Linked DNA regions of Homo sapiens: regions 1 and 2 are each linked to region 3. Evidence: fine-mapped expression QTL. A gene starts in region 3. Each other region holds a variant in brackets. All regions are shown on one strand. Distances are between the middles of the regions. Region 1 overlaps DNAJC13 (DnaJ heat shock protein family (Hsp40) member C13). Region 2 overlaps NPHP3-AS1 (NPHP3 antisense RNA 1). Region 3 holds the start of ACAD11 (acyl-CoA dehydrogenase family member 11).

Region 1 (8,187 bases), 120 kb before region 3:
GCGACAGAGCAAGACTCTGCCTCAAAAAAAAAAAAAAGATATTCTCCTAAGTTTCCAGTGATTTGTTTATGGTTTTGCTAAATATTTAGGGTGTGTCGTTTTATGGGGGTGGAATACATAGGTATCATGAATGAAAGGATGTTTTACTGCTTTGGTTTCAAAAGATACTATGTTTAAAACTCAGAACATTTGACACACTAATTGCATAATTTTAGAATAGTCATTTTCATATAGGCTTCAACATAAGTCAGACTCTTGCTGAATGCTAAAGAGGCAATATCTAGTCTGCTATAAAAGTTCTTAATTTGAAATTAACCTTAGGAATATGAGGCGGTTCTTGCTGTCTGCCTGAAATTGTAGTATATAAAAAGATGTCAGCCCTGCATTCTCTCCTAACCAAAGATGATAAACTAAGAGAAAAAATTATCACCCAGGGTTTCTAAGCCATTGTAATTGTTTTAATCTTGATTGCTAGTATAGAAGTTTATAAGATCATGAAGACTTTATCTTGAATATTCAAAATTAGAGGCTTTGGAGGAAATTTTACCTGGTTTTAATTTTAAACTTGGTGTGACACTTTTTTTTCTTCACCATAACCACTTTAATATTGACACTCCTAAAGTTGGAGCAGAGTCCTAAAATTTATAAACATGCAGTGCTTTGGCTGCAGGTCATGTCCTGTTCAGAACAGTGTCATAGGTTTTTATTTTAACTTTTCCATCCCCTGTCCCTCATATCTATGGAGAAAAATACCTAGACTGTGTTCTCAGTCTGTCCCATATCTCTCTTCAGATTTGGTGTTAAAATTATAGCTTCTAAGTAGGAGTTTGTTCTTATAGGCAGTATAAAAACTTTACCTCTTTAGCCTATGTCCAAAAGTTCACATACCACGTTTTCATGGCATTACATTCATTACTTTTTGTATAAGGATGGTATGATTGAAAAAAAAATCTGCCTTATTTTTATTTTATTATTTATTTTTTTGAGACAGTCTTGCTCTCTCACCCAGGCTGGAGTGCAGTGGTGCGACCTCAGCTCACTGCAACCTCTGCTCCCTGGATTCAAGTGATTCTCCTGCCTCAGCTTCCCAAGTAGCTGGCATTATAGGCTTGCACCACCACACCCAGCTAATTTTTGTAATTATTATTATTATTATTATTATTTTAGTAGAGACGGAATTTTGCCATGTTAGCTATGCTGGTCTCAAACTCCTGACCTCAGGTGATCCACCCACCTCGGCCTCCCAAAGTGCTGGGATTACAGGCGTGAGACACCACACCTGGCTTTTTTTTTTTTTTTTGCGACGGAGTCTGGCTCTGTCACCCAGGCTGGAGTGCAATGGTGCAATCTTGGCTCACTGCAACCTCTGCCTCCCAGGTTCAAGCCATTCTCCTGCCTCAGCTTCCCAAGTACTTGGGATGATAGGCATGTACCACCATGCCCAGCTAATTTTTGTATTTTTAGTAGAGGCTGGTCTCAAACTCCTGACTTCAGGTGATCTGCCCACTTCGGCTTCCCAAAGCATTGGGATTACAGGCGTGAGCCAGCATGCCCGCCCTCTTTTTTTTTTTTTTTTTTTTGAGACAGAGTCTTGGTCTGTTGCCCAGGCTGGAGTACTACAGCATGAGCTCAGCTCACCGCAACCTTTGCCTCCCGGGTTCAAACGATTCTCCTGCCTTAGCCTCACAAGTAGCTGAGATTACAGGTGTGCACCACCATTCCCAGCTAATTTTTGTATTTTTAGTAGAGACGGGGTTTTGCTGTGTTGGCCAGGCTGGTCTCGGACTCCTGACCTCAAATGATCCACCCGCCTCAAATGATCCACCCGCCTGGTACTCCCAAAGTCCTGGGATTACAGGTGTGAGCCACTGCACCTGGTCAGCCTTATTTTTCTTAACTAAGAGTAAATTGGCCCTGAAGAATAGTAATGTGTATATTATAAGCTTCTCTACAGGAAAGCCTCTTCTAATTCTTCTGTTCAGTCTTATCTATCATTCTTTGACTTAACTTGATGAAATAAAAAACATATGTCCTTGACTTACAGAGTGTGAACCAAAAGGTCTGTGGTTAGAATCCAGAAGAAATAGGGGTTTATCTTCAGAAACCTGGACTTCATTTGGTCCTCACCCCCATCCACATGCTTTAGTAACTATAGGGAAAAGGTATAGGCAGTAAAAAGCTTCTTGTCTGTGCCTTTCCTTTTACTTGGATCCATGCGGTGGCTTCTGAATGAGATATGAAAAGTGGCTGTGAAGGGGTTAGAAGAAGGTTAGGGAAAAAGAAAAGTTGGGGTATACAAATTTCTTCCCATCCCTGAGCCGGCTTAAGGGACAGCAAGTTCTGTACAGGTCTGGCCAAATGGGGAGATGGTATAAAACCCAACCAGGAAGGGGCATGGAGATAATGAGTCTTCCAGAAGGCCATTACTGAAGCCTGCAGACGTGTCCATGTAGAACAGTCTGGATAAGCTGTAAGCATTGTTGACCCCAGAATTGTGAAATTCTGAGCATGTTATCAATCTGGGATGCTCTTTTTTAGCGATGTCAGTTGCTGGAAATTTTTTCATCAGCTCTAGTCTGTCCTATTTGAAAGGACCAACTTGCCAGGTGCAATGGCTCATGTCTGTAATCCCAGCAATTTTGGAGGCCAAGGTGGGCGGACTGCTTGAGTCCAGGAGTTCCAGACCAGCGTGGGCAACACGGCAAGACCCCGTCTCTATAAAAAAATACAAAAATTTAGCCAGGCATGTTGGTGCATGCCTGTAGTCCCACCTACTCGGGAGGCTCTCTTGAGCCTAGGAGGTGGAGGTCACAGGTGAGCTGAGCTCTCACCACCACACTCCAGCCTGGGCAATAGAGCAAGACCTTGTCTCAAAAAAAATTAAGTTACATTAAAAATGAAAGAACTATTTCAAGAATTAAAGCTTCTAACTCTTGCTGTCTGCCTGAAATTGTAGTATATAAGATGTCAGCCCTACATCCTCTAACTACAGATGATGTAGGCAAATTAAGAGATAAATTAGGTAAATTTACTGCCAGTTGGATTGATGTGTGCTCATTGCTTGAGTTGCCAAATGTTTTTTGTGTTTGAGCTTTTCATTGATGTATTGTGTATCATGTGTTTGATAAAAGGGGCATGTAGTTCTAATAATGATAAAATCCCATGATGTGGAACTCCAGGAATTTATAGTGTTGTGTTGAATTGGAATTTCATTTAGTTAAAATGTGCCCCGTGCTACTCCCAAACTTCAGAAGATACAGATTGTACCCAGCCCCTCTGTAATCATTGAAATCAAGGTTGCTGTGACAACACACATCACCAACCCTTTCTTCTAACTGATATCTTTAGGTGAGTTTGGCAGGTTAGGTGGATTTTGTTTAGGACATGGGGAAAGA[C/T]AAAGGAGTTAATTACTACTTCAAAGTAAGATAAAAATGACCAAAACTACGTTTTCTTCTCTCTGGCTGCTGAGTAAATGTCATTCAGTCACATGCCCAAGATTTGGGGTAAAAATTTTAAAGTCCTAGGTAGGATTACTCAATCTTGATAAATTTAAATGAGACTGCCTATTTCCATAGGTTCTCTAGCCTGGCATATTTTGTTTTATGATAAATGCTTATTTAAAGGTGCCTCAGTGGAATTTTTCCTGTGATGCAGATAAATTGTGGTTACTCATTATCCAGGGCCCTTGATCACTTAGCCATTTATTAGGTTCTAGAACAGCTTGGTGCTGATGGTCTCAGAGCCTCATAAAAAATAATTTCAGCAGTGAAAATCCTCAAATTACCTAACCTAGAAAATCAGTAGCAAAAGAAGGAACAACAGGAAAAGGAACAGAGGCCAGGGTGAAGATGCTTCTAGGAGCCAGAATTGGAGATGAACTTTTCACATATACATTTCATCGTGGTAGCCAATTCAGTTTTGTGGGATTCTCTGTAAATTTTCCATCTTTTCTCATTTCTCTGAAGTCCAGCAGCCTTGTGCAATCTTGCCACATGCCCATTCCTGGCAGCCCCTGCTCTTCCCATCTTTCTCTGAAGAACACAACTGCCCTATTCTGTGCAAATGACCAGGCAGCACCTTTTAGCCCCAAGAAACCAGACACATCCTCAAGGAGAGGCCAGGGTCCTGGGGAGAGCATCTCGGATTTCATTTGTAGAACTATCCGGGAATTGATTTTGATTTGCCTTTCCTAAAGAGGCAAATGATGGTACTAAAATTTGGTTTCTTCCTTCTAAGCCCATCATTTCACCATTTAGATTTTAGCTCAGAGGTTCCCACATTTTCTCAGTTCACAGTGCCCTTAATAGCTCAGTAATTTTTTCATCCGTCCCCAAGCCAAAAGAAATACCTAATAATTTAGTTTATGAAGTAATTGCAAGACAACTTGAAAGTAGTTGTTTGTATGGTGGTCAGCAGATGGCGCTGTGTTTCAAATTTAAAATACCCAGCAGTTAGCTGGATGATGTGGCAGGCAACTGTAGTCCACATGGACAGGCCGAATCCGCTACTCAGTAGGCTGGGGTGGGAAGATCACTTGAGCCTAGGAGTTCAAGGCCTGGATAGGGGAGTTGCTTGAGCCCAGGAGTTCAAGGCAACATAGTGAGACCCCCATCTGTTAAATACACACACACACAGAGGGGCAAAGGGAATAAATAAATATCCAGCAATGCCCCAGGGTGCCTCAGCACACAGTTTGAGAACTGCGTCATTAATCCACTTTCTAGATGCAGCATTCATGGTTTGGTCTTGTAACCTACTATTTTGATGGGAACCAAGTTGAGCCCACAATCAGAATTGCTCAGAAACTACACAGTCTGGAGTGTTTGAGGTCTTACTGTTAAGGGTTACATCTTTGATGACACCTACTGGATGGTTTTGCAGTAATCATGCTGCAGCCTAAAGTTCAGAGAATATGAGGGTGGTGGGAAATGATCACAGGGTGCTGCTGTAGCTCTGAACTGCGTTGTCAGAAGGGTTTGTTGACCTGGTGGCCTTTTTCCTGAGCAGACTGTGAAAGGCCTGGCATCCTGATTGGCTCAAGGCAGGAGTTGATAGATGCAGGCTCCCACAGTACCTTAAAAAGGAGAAATATTTTTTGTAAGTTCTACAAGTACAAGGTTTTTATAAGTACAGCGTTCCAAGTACCTGGGCACTCTGGTTGGCTTCAGTTACAGCTCACACAGGCTGAGTCATCTCTGCCTATGTATCTATACAAGCCATTTCACATCCATAGTACCAATACTTTTAAGGTCAAAAACAAGATGAATCTGAATGGTGGCCTTTTTGTCCTCCACCAATCCCTGTTTCTACCTTCATCAAACTACTCTGCTGTTTGCACTTCCTCACAACTTCCCTTGCTGCTTATATTTCTTTTTTCCCCTCAGGTGTCTCTCCTTCCCTTCTAACTGGCAGCAGCCCCCTTCACCTCAGGAGCGGGCTTTAGATCCGCTCTGCCAGGCAGCTTGCTAACTTCTGTGTAGCTCTCTGAAGCAGGTAGAGAAATGTTTTGCTAAATGCATGCCGCTCCCACTGCCTTTCTAGTCCTAACCCTCAATGTTCCTTAGTTGTTTGCCTTGTTTCCTACAATTTCAGCTAAAACTATTGCTCAGTATGCAGTATTATGCTACAGTGTCCCTTGCAAGTACTTGTTAGTTTGTGCAGTGCTTCTGAGATGTAATTAAATGTTTATGCAATGTTTAAAATAAACTCTAGAGGGCTAAAGCCATTAATATGCCCATAGGACACATCTCGATAAATGCTGGCATATATGGCATTTTCATGCAATAGAAACTGTTAGAATCAAGGGAGAAATATAAGACTAAAATATCAGTACCCTTTCACATAGCATTCTTGTTTTAACCTATGACAGATGGATGTCCAGAGCCTTTTCTTTTTCAGAGTCCTTGGTTTAGCAACCCTTGTTCGTTTGGTGTTACTTGTTATAATAGCATTTCTTTGCACCAAATGAAAATAGGTTAGTTTGAGTGTTGACAGAAGTGTTTATGTTGAATTTTGTCACATATGACTTTTGGATGAGCTGAGTGTAGAGTTTCTTTTGTCTGTCTGTTTCCATTTTTTCCATTCGACATAGTTCTTTTCAGTGCTCGGAATTTTTTGAAAGATTGAATTTCCCAAATGTAAGAAAGAAAATTTTATCCATATTTCCACACCAGTGTTACTGTCCAGCATACATTTTGAAATGATTTCTAGTCTATAGTGTAGGCAAACATGAAAATAGTACTATGTAGCTGTTTATTAAGGTATAGATGTAATTTAGGTAATTGAAATAGATGATTAGTTTTGTGTGATGGAGTGCCTGAGCAGGTTCTGACATTTTTATAAAGGTCAATGTTTTCACTTGACTGCTTTCTAGAGGTGTGTGTTTACCTTTCTCTCTTGCAGGACCTGGAGTTGCTGGCTACCTTACCGCAGGTACATCTACATCAGTCATGTCTAACCTGCCACCTCCTGTAGACCATGAGGCAGGCGACCTTGGCTATCAGACTTGAAATATTCACGAGAGACAATAAACGCTGAAAGGCCAGTGCCAAGTCCACATTCCTCCAGCTGATACGTTGAAGCAAACTCTTACTGCCTTTCTCCTGGTTTCATGACAGTGTTATTCCTTTTTCTATAAATATATTTTTAGGAAAAAAAGTCAGTGATCCTAATTGTATCACATTATAAGAAAGCACTCTGTGGATCAACATAAGTGGGTACACAAGAATTTTTTTTTTCTTGGTGTATGTAAGCACATTTGTTCCTTTATATCTGTTTACAAAACTGTGAATCAAAAAGACAAAACTTTCTTCCTAGTTTTTGTAATTTTTTTTTTGAACTAGCATGACTGTAGGGTTGAGCTACAGTCAACAAAAATTGGGCTAAGTCACTTTTCCCCAGGAAAGAATATTTCCCTCTCCTGCATCAAGTCTGCGTGGCCATCCTCCCCCCACCATCCAAGACTATTAGGTTTTGTCCCTGCACCCTTCACTGGCATCCTCAATCATTAACCTTCTGAAAGCTCACAGTACACATTAGTATGTATAACTGGCTTTACCAAATTGAATGAAAAGGAGCTTGTGCAAAAAAATTTAAAAATGGATGTCAAGATGTTATGTAAAAGATGAGTGTAATTGTGAAATGTTCTATACACTATCAAATATATAAAGCTTTCTATATTGAATGTACATTATACAGATCATTCATATGTGTACATAAAATTTTAAAAATAAAGGGAATTGACTGCTTTGTTAATGAGATATATTTGTTCTAGTTTAATCTTTCCGTTTGAAGACCTCATATATCTATCTTTATTTCTAAGACAGATGTAGTATTAAACAGACGTTATCTTACATTCGTAACTCTTCATATAGATGGCTGCATTAACATAATCTAATCATTCCTAACTTTAATATTTCAGCCACATCTAAGTTTCCAGACACAGCATCTCATTTATTTTTCATACAACATTCAGGAATGGGTCAGGCTGTTAATAATATGTGACATTAATTCTACTATTTTTAAGAAGAGAAAATTAAATAGCCAGAAGATTTTTCAAGTAACAAATCTCAGCACATAGATTTTCTAGTGTGACCACAAACTACAAGAAAATATAAACATGGAGAATATAAACAAACAGTTCTTAAAGAATGGGGAAATACCCACACTTCCAAGTTTCCTTTCAAAGCAAGAACCAAGTTTATTCCACAGTTGATGTGTAAGAACAGCCAAAATGGAAACTTACTCCTATTCCAAATCACTAATTCAAACTTCTGCATCAAGTTTATCATCTCTAACAGATTATAGAGTAATATGTTAATGGAAGTATTTTAATATGTAACTAGGGTTTTAGTTTCTAGACAATAGTTGGGTATAAAAATGTGTTCACTAAAAAATTATAACAGCTAAATTGGGATTAGGTATTTAGGAGAGCATAAATCAACATAGCAATGTTTTCTTTTAAATACTAAGAATATAAGTATTGTGAATACAATAGTTAAAGGCCCGTTAAATTAGTCTACGATCATTGATGTTTAGATGCCAACAATACTTAACCTTTATTGAATATTTACTGTCTGCTAAGTATTGCATAATCTCATTTAATCCTCAGAACGAACCTGTGGGCCAGTTAATCCTCAGAGCAAACCTGTTGGCCTGGTACTGATATAATTCCCATCTTCCAGGTGA
Region 2 (8,187 bases), 140 kb after region 3:
TTTGTAATTTTGCTCTATAGAGCTTAGCATGATTTGTAATTCTATATGAACTCTACATTTACTTGTTTACCGTTTCTCTCTCCTTCTATATTGTATAACGCTTGTGTGTGTAATCACTCTTTCAAAGTAAAAATCTTAACCAGATTCTGTTTAGCCTCACAAGCAGGACCTTTCCCTTCCTTGCCATCACAATGCCAGGGTAGATTGTGAGAGTCCCATCCTCCTTTTGTGGGGTGGGTACGTACTGTGTCCTGGTATTTTACAAATGGGGTACCTGTCTTCATGAGGTAAGTTGGTTGAGGTATGAACTAAGTCTAGGGACAGGAAAGTGTTACTTGAGCTGGGTGGTTGCTGGGAATATTTGTTAGCATAGGCTAAAATTTCTGTAACACACTACAACATTTTAGTGGCTTAACACCATAAAAGTTCACTTCTGCTCAAGTAAGAGTCCAATGCAGGTATGTGTGATCAGGGTGGCTACCTTGTGTCATTTTCTTCCAAGCAGGGACTCAGGGACACAAGCTTTTTCTACCTTTTGGTTTTGCTGTCCCCTAGGGATTTAGAGCCTGTCATCTCTACCTGGCAGAACAGGAAAGAGGGAGCATGGAGGGAGCATAGACAAAACAGGAAGAAGTGTGTATCACTTCTATCCACATTCCATTGGCCAGAACTCACTGGTTCACAATAGGGTTTCATCTAATAGCAAGGGAGGCTGGGAAATATAGTCTAACTCTATGCCCAGGAAGAAGAGGCAGGCATGGATTTTGGATGCCCAGGGAAAGAACGATTGGTATAGGCCCAGGTGTGGGTGATAAGCGGTGATCCCTATGTCTTGGCAAATCCACCCTTTGCTACCATGAGGTTCCTGGTTCCACAGCTCTCCTCACTATGGTCCTTGACAGAGACACATCTTATGCTCATCCATTGTCCCTTTCAGGTCTGGATTGCTCCCTTCTGTCCTCCCTGGTCTTTCTAGAGTAATTCCCCATCTCTTCCATTCAACGCACACTATTTTTTTTTTTTTCGTTTAGTGGGGTATTTGTGTGAGGTGAAGCCCTGCTCATGGTAACATTTTTGTGTAGCCTAATATCACTTCTATTCCCCTAACACAGAAGAAGTCTTGTCTTTTTTCTCTGCTCATTGCCTCAAGGGAGAAATATAATAACATTGGTTGATATTTCAAAAACATTGCCCCACAGCAAATATAAATTCAATGAGGATAGAGACCATATCTGTATGTTCACCACAATGTCCCCAACATCTACCAAATGGGCTCAAATATTTATGAATAAATAAATGCATAAATAAGTACATGAATGTTGTAAGAAGTGGCACTACTGACAGATACCACTTGCATCCTGATTCTTCGTACCTTCTCAGACCTTCCTTCTCAAACGGGTGTGAGCAGTGCTCTTAATGGCCCTGGAAGGAGACTGGAGGGAGCTATAGTTATGGGGCCCTGACTCTGCAGGCTTGACATTTTGTCTGTAACTTCACACACACACATATTACACATACACTTGGAAAGAAAAATAATCCAAGAAAATAGGATAAGGAACGATAACAAAGGAAAAAAGAATAAAAACCCTTAGCTCCTGGCACATAGGAGTCCTGTAAATGTTTATTGAATGAGAGACAAGAAGAAATACCCAGTTTCTTCTATGCAAGGACTGAAATGGGCAATTCATGGACATGAATTGAATTCTAATAGTCTTTCCTTGAAAATTTATTAAAGAGAGCTAGACTGTATCCTGATCATAATGTCACTCTTGTTCTTTAGCAATAGACTAGGTTTATTTTTCTAGCTGGTCTCTCTGACTCTCACAGACTGCGTACGTGCTGCAGAATGCTGGGGGAAAATTAACTCTCATGACTGGGAGAGGCAGAGTCAGGAGTCACTGAGATGGTTCCCATCCAACGTGGAGAAGGAAAGCAATGTGGCTTAAGATGGATTCATTATCACTGGTGGAAGAAGTGATTTTTTAGGGTGGAGGAAGAATTTAATGAAAAGCTTCTTTGGGGGGATAACTTCTCATCAATTTTTGTGGCAGATGCTGCAGGTTGGCACTCTCACCTCTCATATGAAACCCTTTTCTTTCTAACCTCTGTCATTTTGTAGGCTGAAAAACAAAAGTACTCACTTTCCTAGCCTCTCCTGTAGCCAAAGGAGGTCATCTGACACAATTTTGGACAAGGAGACGTAAGTTACCCCTCCCCTATTTTTCCTTTTTTTCCTACCTTAAATTGATAAGATAGCAGCCGTAGCTGCCTGAATTCATCCATTTGCATTGCTATAGAGGAATACCCGAGACTGTGTACTCTATGGAGAAAAAAGTTTTATTTTGGCTCATGGTTCTGCAGGATGTACAAGAAGTGTGGTGCCAGCATCAGTACCTGCTCTGGGTCAGGGCTTCAGGAAGTTTACAATCATGGTGGAAGGTGAAGGAAGAGCAGGCAGTGTTACATGGCAAGAGGGGGAGCAAGGGGTGGGTGAAGGCACCACACTCTGTTAAACAACCAGATCTCATGTGAACTCAGAGGGAGAACTCACTCATTACCATAAGGAGGGCATGAAGACATTCATCAGGAATCTGCCCCCATAACCAAAACACCTCCCACCATGTCCCAACTCCAACATTGGAGGTCATATTCAACAGGAGACTTGGAGGGAACAAATTTCCAATCCATATCACTGCCATTTTGTGACTATGAGAGAGAGGCCAAAAGACCCACAGAGAAGTGGACCCTGACATTATTGAAGCACTGAACCAATGCTAGCAGACACCTGACTTCAGATTTCTCTTATGCAAGGAAACATAAAGCCCTCTTTGTTTAAGGCATTGAAATGAAGGATTCTGTTACTTGCAGCCCAAGTATTTCTAACAGCTCTTCTTTTAAAAATTTTCCATTTCCCACTTAAAATAAATATACCAGCTATATGTAGTAAATATGAAAAAATTCTCACCAAGATTAAAACAAGATTTTAAAAGACAGAATTGCGGAGTAGGGAACATAATTTTGAAAAAGAAGAAAGTTGGAGGACTCACACTGTCTGATTTTAAGACTTATTCTTAAACTAAGCATTTATAAAGTCTTTACAAATCAAAACATTGTTATTGGTAAAAGGACAGATACACAGATGAATGGAACACAATACAAAGCCCCAATGATATGGAATTGCAAAGGAGTCATCACTCTGGAGCATTTCTGCAGAGGAAATATCGAACCACCCAAATTACCTCTTCTACTTAAAGTATCAAGTCAGCTCAATTCCCAGGGAGCTTTTCTTAACCTGAGATAAATTCTAATCCTAATGAATATGTTTAAAGGTAAATTCTGTGTTAGCCTTGCCTTGAATAGGCTACATTTCTCCACTTTCAGGTCTTCTTTCTATTCACCCCTATCTCCCTGCCGCTTTAGGAAAATTCCTCTGCCTCCATGTGAGCTAGTCCTGGTGCTGTCAATTCTCAGTATACCTCTAGTCTGGAGCAGCTACAAGGATTGTTTTTTCCAGTGTGCCCAATGCCCTTCTCCTGCCTTTACTAATTTTGTTTTCTTATAGACACATCATCCATCCTCTCCCTCAGTTGTTTTTGGCTTCATAGTCTCCTTCTTTCTGATTCCTTTCCCTAAACTATGAATCAGATCATGCCATCCCCTTGCTTAAAAATGACAGTGGATGCTCCTTTCCGGGGTTTGTTCCTTCAACCCAGCAAAGGCCTCATGGGCTTCACCTTATGAGTCTCCTGTCAGGACCACTCTGCCCTCACATCTCAGCATGTCCAGCCCTGTCTGGACATTAAGATCTCCACCGGGCATGGTGGCTCATGCCTGTAATCCTAGCACTTTGGGAGGCTGAGGCAGGCAGATCACCTGAGGTAAGGGGTTCGAGACCAGCCTGGCCAACATGGCGAAACCCTGTCTCTACTAAAAATACAAAAATTAGCCAGGTGTGATGGCACATGCCTGTAATCCCAGCTACTCGGGAGGCTGAGGCAGGAGAATTGCTTGAACCCAGGAGGCAGAGGTTGCGGTGAGCCAAGATCTTACCACTGCACTCCAGCCTGGGCAGCAGAGTGAGACTCCATCTCAAAAAAAAAAAAAAAAAAAAAAAGGATCTCCAGCCAGAGGACATCTCCTCAAGCAGGTCTTCCTGACTGCTCTTCCCCTACATTCTGCCTTACTTCACCCAGTTTTTTTTTTACCTATTTTTAATGATCTTGTTCATTAACTTCTTTGCTCTCTTATTCGTTATCTCCATTTGCTTAAAGCTCCATGGGAACAAAATTCTTTTTTCTTTTTTTATTATTATACTTTAAGTTTTAGGGTACACGTGCACAATGTGCAGGTTAGTTACATATGTATATATGTGCCATGTTGGTGTGCTGCACCCATTAAC[T/G]CGTCATTTAGCATTAGGTATATCTCCTAATGCTATCCCTCCCCCCTCCCCCCACCCCACAACAGTCCCCAGAGTGTGATGTTCCCCTTCCTGTGTCCATGTGTTCTCATTGTTCAATTCCCATCTATGAGTGAGAACATGTGGTGTTTGGTTTTTTGTCCTTGCGATAGTTTGCTGAGAATGATGATTTCCAATTTCATCCGTGTCCCTACAAAGGACATGAACTCATCATTTTTTATGGCTGCATAGTATTCCATGGTGTATATGTGCCACATTTTCTTAATCCAGTCTATCTTTGTTGGACATTTGTGTTGGTTCCAAGTCTTTGCTATTGTGAATAGTGGCGCAATAAACATACGTGTGCATGTGTCTTTATAGCAGCATGATTTATAGTCCTTTGGGTATATACCCAGTAACGGGATGGCTGGGTCAAATGGTATTTCTAGTTCTAGATCCCTGAGGAATCGCCACCCTAACTTCCACAATGGTTGAACTAGTTTACAGTCCCACCAACAGTGTAAAAGTGTTCCTGTTTCTCCACATCCTCTCCAGCACCTGTTGTTTCCTGACTTTTTAATGATCGCCATTCTAACTGGTGTGAGATGGTATCTCATTGTGGTTTTGATTTGCATTTCTCTGATGTCCAGTGATGATGAGCATTTTTTCATGTGTCTTTTGGCTGCATAAATGTCTTCTTTTGAGAAGTGTCTGTTCATATCCTTTGCCCACTTTTTGATGGGGTCGTTTGTTTTTTTCTTGTAAATTTGTTTGAGTTCATTGTAGATTCTGGATATTAGCCCTTTGTCAGATGAGTAGATTGTGAAAATTTTCTCCCATTTTGTAGGTTGCCTGTTCACTCTGATGGTAGTTTCTTTTGCTGTGTAGAAGCTCTTTAGTTTAATTAGATCCCATTTGTCAATTTTGGCTTTTGTTGCCATTGCTTTTGGTGTTTTAGACATGAAGTCCTTGCCCATGCCTATGTCCTGAATGGTATTGCCGAGGTTTTCTTCTAGGGTTTTTATGGTTTTAGGTCTAACATTTAAGTCTTTAATCAATCTTGAATTAATTTTTGTATAAGGTGTAAGGAAGGGATCCAGTTTCAGCTTTCTACATATGGCTAGCCAGTTTTCCCAGCACCATTTATTAAATAGGGAATCCTTTCCCCATTGCTTGTTTTTGTCAGGTTTGTCAAAGATCAGATAGTTGTAGATATGCGGCGTTATTTCTGAGGGCTCTGTTCTGTTCCAGCGATCTATATCTCTGTTTTGGTACCAGTACCATGCTGTTTTGGTTACTGTAACCTTGTAGTGTAGTTTGAAGTCAGGTAGCGTGATGCCTCCAGCTTTGTTCTTTTGGCTTAGGATTGACTTGGCGATGTGGGCTCTTTTTTGGTTCCATATGAACTTTAAAGTAGTTTTTTCCAATTCTGTGAAGAAAGGCATTGGTAGCTTGATGGGGATGGCATTGAATCTATAAATTACCTTGGGCAGTATGGCCATTTTCACTATATTGATTCTTCCTACCCATGAGCATGGAATGTTCTTCCATTTGTTTGTATCCGTTTTTATTTCAGTGAGCAGTGGTTTGTAGTTCTCCTTGAGGAGTTCCTTCACGTCCCTTGTAAGTTGGATTCCTAAGTATTTTATTCTCTTTGAAGCAATTGTGAATGGGAGTTCACTCATGATTTGGCTCTCTGTTTGTCTGTTATTGGTGTATAAGAATGCTTGTGATTTTTGTACATTGATTTTGTATGCTGAGACTTTGCTGAAGTTGCTTATCAGCTGAAGGAGATTTTGGGCTGAGACAGTGGGGTTTTCTAGATATACAATCATGTCATCTGCAAACAGGGACAATTTGACTTCCTCTTTTCCTAATCGAATACCCTTTATTTCCTTCTCCTGCCTAATTGCCCTGGCCAGAACTTCCAACACTATGTTGAATAGGAGTGGTGAGAGAGGGCATCCCTACCAAGGAAATGGAAAACAAAAAAAGGCAGGGGTTGCAACACTAGTCTCTGATAAAACAGACTTTAAACCAACAAAGATCAAAAGAGACCAAGAAGGCCATTACATAATGGTAAGGGGATCAATTCAACAAGAAAAGCTAACTATCCTAAATGTATATGCACCCAATACAGGAGCACCCAGATTCATAAAGCAAGTCCTGAGTGACCTACAAAGAGAGACTCCCACACAATAATAATGGGAGACTTTAACACCCCACTGTCAACATTAGACAGATCAATGAGACAGAAAGTTAACAAGGATACCCAGGAATTGAACTCAGCTCTGCACCAAGCGGACCTAATAGACATCTACCGAACTCTCCACCCCAAATCAACAGAATATACATTTTTTTCAGCACCACACCACACCTATTCCAAAATTGACCACATACTTGGAAGTAAAGCCCTCCTCAGCAAATGTGAAAGAACAGAAATTATAACAAACTGTCTCTCAGACCACAGTGCAATCAAACAAGAACTCAGGATTAAGAAACTCACTCCAAACCGGTCAACTACATGGAAACTGAACAACCTGCTCCTGAATGACTACTGGGTACATAACGAAATGAAGGCAGAAATAAAGATGTTCTTTGAAACCAACGAGAACCAAGACACAACATACCAGAATCTCTGGGACACATTCAAAGCAGTGTGTAGAGGGAGATTTATAGCACTAAATGCCCACAAGAGAAAGCAGGAAAGATCCAAAATTGACATCCTAACATCACAATTAAAAGAACTAGAAAAGCAAGAGCAAACACATTCAAAAGCTAGCAGAAGGCAAGAAATAACTAAAATCAGAGCAGAACTGAAGGAAATAGAGACAAAAAAAAACTCTTGAAAAAATTAATGAATCCAGGAGCTGGTTTTTTGAAAGGATCAACAAAATTGATAGACCACTAGCAAGACTAATAAAGAAAAAAAGAGAGAAGAATCAAATAGACGCAATAAAAAATGATAAAGGGGATATCACCACCTATCCCACAGAAATACAAACTACCATCAGAGAATACTACAAACACCTCTATGCAAATAAACTGCAAAATCTAGAAGAAATGGATAAATTCCTTGACACATACACTCTCCCAAGACTAAACCAGGAAGAAATTGAATCTCCGAATAGACCAATAACAGGAGCTGAAATTGTGGCAATAATCAATAGCTTACCAACCAAAAAGAGTCCAGGACCAGATGGATTCACAGCCGAATTCTACCAGAGGTACAAGGAAGAACTGGTACCATTCCTTCTGAAACTATTCCAATCAGTAGAAAAAGAGGGAATCCTCCCTAACTCATTTTATGAGGCCAGCATCATCCTGATACCAAAGCCGGGCAGAGACACAACCAAAAAAGAGAATTTTAGACCAATATCCTTGATGAACATTGATGCAAAAATCCTCAATAAAATACTGGCAAACCGAATCCAGCAGCACATCAAAAAGCTTATCCACCATGATCAAGTGGGCTTCATCCCTGGGATGCAAGGCTGGTTCAATGTATGCAAATCAATAAATGTAATCCAGCATATAAACAGAACCAAAGACAAAAACCACATGATTATCTCAATAGATGCAGAAAAGGCCTTTGACAAAATTCAACAACGCTTCATGCTAAAAACTCTCAATAAATTAGGTATTGATGGGACGTATCTCAAAATAATAAGAGCTATCTATGACAAACCCACAGCCAATATCATACTGAATGTGCAAAAACTGGAAGCATTCCCTTTGAAAACTGGCACAAAATTCTTATCTGTTAAAAGTGGACATGTGTCTTTGGCCCA
Region 3 (8,180 bases):
TTCTGTTTTTTTTGTTGTTGTTGTTTGTTTGTTTGTTTAAAGATTACTTCCCTCCTCTGCTCAAGCATGTTTTAAGTCTCTCTCCATCTCAATTCAAAGTAAAAGCCAAAGTCTCTTTATTGCCTGACAGGGTCCCTGTTGCCCTTGCTTACACTACTTCAGGCATTTGGGCTGTGTTTCCTCAACACACTGGGCACACATCCCTTCCAGGGCCTTTGCATTAGCAGTCCCCTCTGTCTGGAACACTCTTTTCCTGGATATTTACATGGCTCACATTTTCATCCCCCTTCAAGTCTTTGCTGAATGCCGTGTGCTCGAGGAAATCTTCCTGCCCCACACCCAAACATTTCCTATTCTCTTTTCCTCCATGTTACATATCAACTTCTACATTGTAAAGTTCAGAAGCTGATTTTCCTGTCTGTCTTCTACAAATACAATGGAAGTTCCAGGGAGGCAAGATTATTGTTACATCCTCAGTGGTTGATACAGTGCCAGATACATATTAGGCACTCAGCTGCAAATCACAAGTTTTGTTGTATCAAGCTATATAATACTTTCATTATTGATTAATTCTAAATATTTTATCTTTCCAATAAGATTTAATTTTTGCAAATTTTAAAAGTAAATCTTGCAGATAAAAAGAGTATTTATGAAATTGGTAAGGCATGAGGAATAGTAATGCCACAAACACCATTTTCACTACCCGGAGAAAATTACTGTCTTTGAAACCCTGTATGTCCTTCCCCTTGAGTGACTACCATTCTGAATTTTATATTTATCATTCCCTTGAAGTTTATCTCTGTATATAATATACTGTTAATTTCTTCACGTTTTTCATTCTGTGTTATGTACAGCTGTAGCTGAATCATTTTCACTGTTGTATGCTACTCCATTATGTGAATATACTGCAATTTATTCATCCATTCTGTATCTATAGACATTGTGTTGTTTCCTGGATTTTTGCTATTACAAACAGTACAATGAACATCTTTGTAGATTGTCCCCTTATACTGTAGTACAAGAAAAGTCTCAGGAGTATGTATCTATGAGTAGAACTGCTAGGTCATAGGTCATGTGTATCTTCCCAACTTCATTTTTACAAGATCATGTTGAGTTATTTTTCAATAGCAGCTATACTAATTCACACCCCTATATGAGTCCCTGTTGCCCCATATCCTGATGCTTGATATTGTCAGATTTTTTTTTTTTTTGAGACGGAGTCTGCCTCTGACTCACCCAGACTGGAGTGCAGTGCTGTGATCTCAGCTCACTAAAGCCTCTGCCTCCCAGGTTCAAGCAATTCTCCTGCCTCAGCCTCCCGAGTAGCTGGGATTTACAGGTACCCACCACCACACCCAGCTAATTTCGTATTTTTAGTAGAGACGGGGTTTCACCATGTTGGCCAGGCTGGTCTCGAACTCGACCTCTGGTGATCCACCTGCTTCAGCCTCCCAAAGTGCTGGGATTACAGGCATGAGCCACTGCACCCAGTCTATTGTCAGATTTTTTAAAAGTCAATTTGGTGGTGTGAAATGGTTTCTCATTGTGTTGTTTTTTTTTTTTTAATTTGCATTTCCCTTATTACTACAGTATAATAAAGTTGAGCATCATCAAGTTTTCGCCCATTTTTCTGGTGAGCTATTATAGTTATATTCTGAATATTTTAACCATTATATGCACTGAAAATATTTTCTTCTGTCTTTTCACTTTAAGTCTTTTAATGAAAATTTATCAGTCATTTCCTTTGTGGTTTCTGCTGTTGTCTTTAAAATATTTTCTTCTCTAAAGTCAAAAATATAACTTACACATCTTCCAAACATTTATAGTTTAACATTCAGTTCTTTTATCTACCTGGAACTGTGTGAGATAAAGAGTCTAATTTCTATTTCTTCATACAGATAACAATTATTCCAGTATAACTTCTTGAAAAGTTCTTCTTTTCCCCCCACTGACTCTCAGTGCCAACATTGTCACTTATCAAACTTCTATAAATATGTGGGTCTTTCTGTGAACTCTCTGTTCTATTTTATTGGTCTGTCTATCTCTGTGCTAATATCATACCATCTTAACTCAAATTTCCCACCTTGTGGTTCTTTAAAAATGTTTCTGCTATCCTTAGCCCTTCGCTCTTACACATAAAATTTAGGAGCACTTTTTCAAATTAGAGAAAAAAATTAGGATTTTGATTGTCATTGCTTTGAATCAATAGATCAACTGGAAGAAAAAAGTTTGCAATATTGAATATTCCTATTCAACAACATGGCATCTCTCAATTTTTAAAATTCTTTTTAAGGTCCTAATAAAAGTTTTATCATTTCTCTACAAAGGTATTGCACATCTTTTACTTAGGTAATTTATATTTTTGATGCTCCTGTAAGTTTTTGAAAATTACATTTTAACTGTTGCTAAAGTAGAGAAATGCAGTTGATTTCTGTACACTGAACTTTGATAGTCTTTTACTGTCTATGTAGATTATTGGCTCTTTAATCCATGAATCACTTAATTTATAAACATGTATTTGTTAGCTATCTTCTGTTAAACTTTTGGTATTAAAAAAACACATATTCCTTTTTTTTTTTTTTTTTTTTGAGTCTCACTCTGTCACCTAGGCTGGAGCATGGTGGTGCAATCTTGGCTCACTGCAACCTCCCTCTCCTGGTTCAAGCGATTCTCCTGCCTCAGCATCCCAAGTAGCTGGGACTACAGGCACGTGCCACCACGCCCGGCTAATTTTTGTATCTTTAGTAGAGATGGGGGTTTCACCATGTTGGCCAGGCTGGTCTTGAACTCCTGACCTCAAGTGATCCACGTGCCTCGGCCTCCCAAAGTGCTGGGATTACAAGTGTGAGTCACTGCACCTGGCCAAAACACACATTTTCAAAATATAAAGATTGATTCTTTTGAGTTTCTGAGACTTCCTTCATGGCCTATGTGTTTTCAATTTTTATAAACTTTTTCATGTGTCCTAGAAATGAATGTGTGTTCTCTGTGGGATCCAGAGTTCCATATATATTTATTAAACCAAGCTTATACAACATTTCTGGAAGCAATTTTTATACCACAACTAATTTACAACTAATTTCATTTTTTGAACACGGTTATGGTTTAACATTCAGCTTGGTTCAGAATTAAGTATCTTTCAGTTATGTACCTCTTCAACACTCCTACAATATGAACGTTACTATCTCCTTTTTGCCAAAGCAGGACTAGATGTTCAAAGGGTAACTTGTCCAAATTCCACAGCAATTGAAATAGTTGAAATTTGAACTTTGATCTGTTTCAGTTTGTTACAACACAAGGCTTCTAGCCTAGAAATCTCAGCTATTCTTTATTCCACCTTTCCCTTCATCTTCCAATATCTATTGGGACATGGGACCTTTAAATTCTACACCCTAAAATGTTCCCTGATCCATCTCATTTATTATTATTTTCATTTTCACCAAAATCAGTAGTCAAAGAATATAAATGCTAGTGATAAAATACCACTAGCACACTATGTTGTTGCAATTTTTACGCCCTTTCACCTATATTACGGTATTTCATTTCATTAATAAGACTAATCAAAATAGGTATTACAACTTAGGAAACTAGTTCTCAGAGTGTTTATGTAACATATTTAAACTCCCAGACAGCAAGTGACAGATCCAGTTTTCTGAATGATAGGACTCTTTCTGTAGCCCTGTATTAGTAACAATGTTATTTTTAGAATAAAGTTTTAAGAATGTATTATCTATTGTAAAACATCAGACTAAAGCCAGATTCCCGGTGGGGAACGCTACTCTCAGGATCCTCTCACTCAGTTCCATTACCTCACTTCAAAAAACCTGAGGCCCAAAGTGGTGCTGTGACCTCCTAAGTGGAAAAGCTAGTACTCGAATTCGGATCCTCCATCTGGTGTCATTAACTCAGCCTCCCGGAATACGGCCAATCAAACGGAATTACACCAGCTTCTCAGAAAAAGATCTAATGGCTGTATCACAAAAGAAGGCATCTATTTCTCAGAATTTGTAGCCTTAATTGCCTTGGTGAATCCTCAAGGGACATAAATCCATCCTTTAACAAAGATTCCTTTGGATAGTAGAATGGTGAACGTTATTGCGCTTCCATTACCGCCCTCCAATTGGGAAGCCCCCAGCATCGAATTCGGAGGGCCGGCAATAGCAGCTCATGCCTGTAGGGTGCGTCCACTGACTGCAGGAAAAGCAATCAGGGTGGGAGAAACTTAGGAAACCACCCAGGGCCAAAGGAAGGAAAACTCAATGTACAAATTTTTTTCCGCTGGAGGCAAAGGCTGACATCCATACCTGTACTGGGCAATGGTCAGCGTAGCCTCACGTTCGGCCCCAAAGCCAGACAAGTGCTGGTTTAGGTAGGCCTCCAGGGACTTGCTGTCGAACTTGTGCTGGGGCAGCACTTCGGCCAAATCGGACTCGCCAGTAGCACCTGGCTTCATGATCACCCCCGCAGGCCACAGCAACGCGGCATCCACAGGTCTCGAGTGCCGAAGTCCTTCAGGATTGGGGCAACGTCCCCTCTAGAGCATGGGCCGAGGCCGGGGTGGGGTCTGGCTCCAGCCAACCGCACACAGCCTACGCGCCGTTGCTGAGCAACGCTTGCCCGCTGAATCCCGAGGTTTTAGCTCTAGTCAAGTGCCAAAAGAGCCCAATGTGTGTTCGGGTTTCAATTCTCCAGTCAGCGTCAGAGTTGGAGGCCTCAATTTTAAAGAAGGCAAAGCCATGGTCATCGTTGCGGGTAAGGAACAACGCAGAAGCCTCTTCCACCCCCAAATTTAATGCAACAGCAGGCGGAAGACCTGCAGGGTCCCGTTCAGAAAAAGGGCCGTCAGACTGTCGAGCCTAAGAATAAAAAGACCCTGTTTCTCTTAGATACCCGGTTAGCAAGGCAACATCGCTGGCCTCCTGCCCTGGACACTTATCACCCCGGTGCTGCTGCGGCCGGGTTTAGCCGGCCCAGCGAGGAAGGAAGCCGAAAGAGCCAGGTTTTTGATGAGGGGGAGCGATGTCTGCGACGCACCGGAAGCGGCTCCGAGGAAGGCCTGTGGGAGTCTCGGAGACGTGTCTGTCTGTGAGGCGCTGGGTGCACGTCCCCAGGGCTCTGGGCTAGGAAGGCAGCGGCGAGGTGCCTCCCCACGTACCCCTCGCGGGCCCAGCCGAGCAACGTGGGGCGAAGGCGGCGGCGAAGGCCCGGGCTGGGAGCGTTGGCGGCCGGAGTCCCAGCCATGGCGGAGTCTGTGGAGCGCCTGCAGCAGCGGGTCCAGGAGCTGGAGCGGGAACTTGCCCAGGAGAGGAGTCTGCAGGTCCCGAGGAGCGGCGACGGAGGGGGCGGCCGGGTCCGCATCGAGAAGATGAGCTCAGAGGTGGTGGATTCGAATCCCTACAGGTAACCTGCGTCGCCGGTCGGAGGCAGGCGCGGGGGACGAGGTCAGGCTCCGTGAGGTCAGAAGTGAGGCGCTTCCCACGTCCCGCTCATGGGGACGCCCGCCACCCTTTTCTTGGTCTGCGAATCCTGTTCCCAAATGGGCAAGGCCACATCTTAGTACTGATCGGAAGATATTCTTTCTCTTTTTTAAAAACCTCCAGTGAGTCAGCCATATGGTGCTGCTCCTGTGCCTGCTGAGGACGTGTGTCCAGTTTCCTATCACCCTTGCCTCTTAATTAGTCCGCCTCGCTGTGTATAAGACTGATAGTAAGAACTTTCAGAAGATGAGATCAAATATTAAACCTGCTAAGGTAAACTTTGAGTTTCATTAAAGGCTTATCAATGCATCTTAAATGGGGTCGGGGCGGGGGAGAGCGGGGTTAGCTCTATTCTGAGATATTCGGGTGCTCCTTAACATCTCAAACCATTCGACATTACCAAGACTGCCCAGGCCTCTCTTTTCTTCTTTCCTAACAAAGCTTATCAATTCAGCAGATGGAATATAGTGCAATGGTTAAGGGTAAGGACTCTACCGCCAGACTGATTGCAATTCAAATCTAACTACTCTCTTCGTAACTGCCTAACCTTTGGCAAGTTGTGAAACTTTCCGCTTCAGCTTCTCACCTGTACAATGAAGATAATAGTAATATCTATCTCTGTCATAGTTGTGGGGATTGAAAAAATCAGTATGTATAAAGGTCTTAGAGTAGCGCTTGTACATGGCAAGCCTTATACAAGATTTTATTGCTAGGTGCATTTAGTAGCAAGCAGTTATTGAGCTTTCACTGTGTAAGCACTTTACATGCATTGTCTCCTCCCACCAAAACCCTATGAGATTGCTACTATTTTACCCCCATTATATAAGTGAGAAAATTGAGGCTTAGAGAGCCACCTCAGGTTCATGCCTTGGTAGTAAATAATAAGGCCTGTCTTGCATTAGATTTGTCTTAATGTAAAATTCTCATGAACCGTCTCCCCAGTAAAAACAATTAAGTCGTGTAGCTAAAAATTGTATAGTGTTAAAGTAGATAAGGAAGATTTTATTGTTGCTTTTTTCCTTTAAAGAGCATAACAGTTTTGATTTTTAAAAAAGGTTTTAGTTTGTGATATATAAAGCCGCAGTAGAAGTCTTAGGGTGCACTGTTTTAACTGTGTTGCCAAATATGAACGGTTAATGGTCCAGAATTTTTAGAGATTAAATAAGCATGAACTGACATCTCTAATCAGAATAAGTGGAAACTATTTGACATTTTTAAAACATTTTAAAATTTTACAAATGAAGACTTTGAAATTTTCCCTCCAGAATGAAAAGCAGAGGAATATGGGTCATGAATTTAAGTTGTCTTTCAGACATTATTTAATATGAGATGATCCCTTGACATTGTAATTATAACAAAACTTTCAGAACTCAAGTCTAAATATGTAGTATTTTCTATCTGATTTGCACCATTGACTTTATTAAAATTGCTATACAGGAGATGGCAGTTTGATACCCAAAGCTGTTCACTGATATATGGAATTTTAATAAAGTTCAGCTTTAATTTTTTGAATTGTTCATACAGCAAATATTTACTGAGTACATTTTTGTCTCCAGTCCTCCTTGACAATATTATTTACTTTGTATTGAGTACTTATTGTGTGCAGACACTGTGAATATAAAGTAGACATGGTCTTTTCCCTCTAGAGCTTACCAGATGAGTGTGAGATAAATAGAAAAGTAAACATGCCATTGCAGTACAGGTGATAAGAATTATGATAAAGTACAGTGTTATTATTGATAAAGTACAGGTTATTGAATTATGATAAAGTACAAAAGGTTATAGGAAAGGGATATGTATGTGTTCAACACCATTTTAATTGCTTCAAGAGATACAAAAGAAATATAAAGCACCTGACTTTTGCTTCAGTTTGAGAGACTACATGGAGGTGGGATATTAAAAAACACAAGTAACCGTAAAATTATGTGTTATGGAATATAGTTATAAGCATGTGGAAAAATTGGAGAGGCTTTGAGATTAGAAAACCTGGTATCAAATCCTGGCTCAGAAACCCAGCTCAGAATACCACTTGCCAGTTAGCTGATTTTGGGCAGTTGATTAACCCAAACCGTTTCCCTCATCTGTAAAAGGGGGTTGCCATCCATGCTTCTCAGATTATTTAAAGATTGAAGGGAGCATCAAGGTAAGGATAGCAAATTCCTGTGATGGATCTGCCATCACTTTCTACCCAACCTCACTAAAGTGACAGTAAAGGAATTTTTTAAAAGAAACTCCCATTGAAAATATAAAGGGTTCGTATTAATAACTGATAGGGAGGGGTGGGTCCCTGTACTTGATTATAGTAACAATTTGGAAACTAGAGAAGGGATGGGTGAAGGTAACTGATTTAATAGATTCAGAGAAGTTTAATCTTAAGCTCGCAACCCAGTTTATTGCAAGAATCCCCCAAAAGGCTCAGGAATAGGCACAGGTACTTGCAGAACTTCAGGTAGGGCTAAAAAAAACTTTCAGTTGAAAATCTGTTGAAGAAACAAAAGCCCCAGATCCCCTACTCCACTGTGGGTAACTGGGCAAACACTCCTTCCCTACCAGAAGAGGAGAGTAGAGATTTCTTCATTAGAAAGAGTAAAATAGAAGATTTCCAAGAATAATTGGGGCAGGTCTTTGTACCTGAAGGAAGGGGTAAACTGATTGTTTACATGCTGAATGCTGTGACTGAATGTAAACTAAATGCTTACATAC

What was found.
Region 1: its variant is fine-mapped to the expression of ACAD11 in whole blood (TOPMed, PIP above 0.99).
Region 2: its variant is fine-mapped to the expression of ACAD11 in whole blood (TOPMed, PIP above 0.99).

Annotation. Positions count from the first base shown.
Region 1 is chr3:132,531,774-132,539,960 of GRCh38, forward strand. It overlaps DNAJC13 (DnaJ heat shock protein family (Hsp40) member C13), which reads left to right. Exons shown (of 56, transcript NM_015268.4): 56 at 6,403-7,259. The coding sequence ends at 6,509. Among named protein-coding and RNA genes, the nearest start is that of ACKR4, 61 kb to the right of the region's middle. The variant C/T (reference allele first, on the strand shown) is at 3,396.
Region 2 is chr3:132,791,415-132,799,601 of GRCh38, forward strand. NPHP3-AS1 (NPHP3 antisense RNA 1) reads left to right here. Exons shown (of 11, transcript NR_002811.2): 4 at 2,120-2,200. All of the region lies in intron 2 of LOC105374115 (a long non-coding RNA gene), which reads right to left. Among named protein-coding and RNA genes, the nearest start is that of NPHP3-ACAD11, 73 kb to the left of the region's middle. The variant T/G (reference allele first, on the strand shown) is at 4,400.
Region 3 is chr3:132,655,299-132,663,478 of GRCh38, forward strand. ACAD11 (acyl-CoA dehydrogenase family member 11) reads right to left here and starts at 4,511. Exons shown (of 20, transcript NM_032169.5): 1 at 4,305-4,511. The coding sequence starts at 4,453. It overlaps UBA5 (ubiquitin like modifier activating enzyme 5), which reads left to right and starts at 5,031. Exons shown (of 12, transcript NM_024818.6): 1 at 5,031-5,400. The coding sequence starts at 5,240. All of the region lies in intron 26 of NPHP3-ACAD11 (NPHP3-ACAD11 readthrough (NMD candidate)), which reads right to left. RefSeq lists enhancers at 4,813-5,351, 4,887-4,976, 5,347-5,626.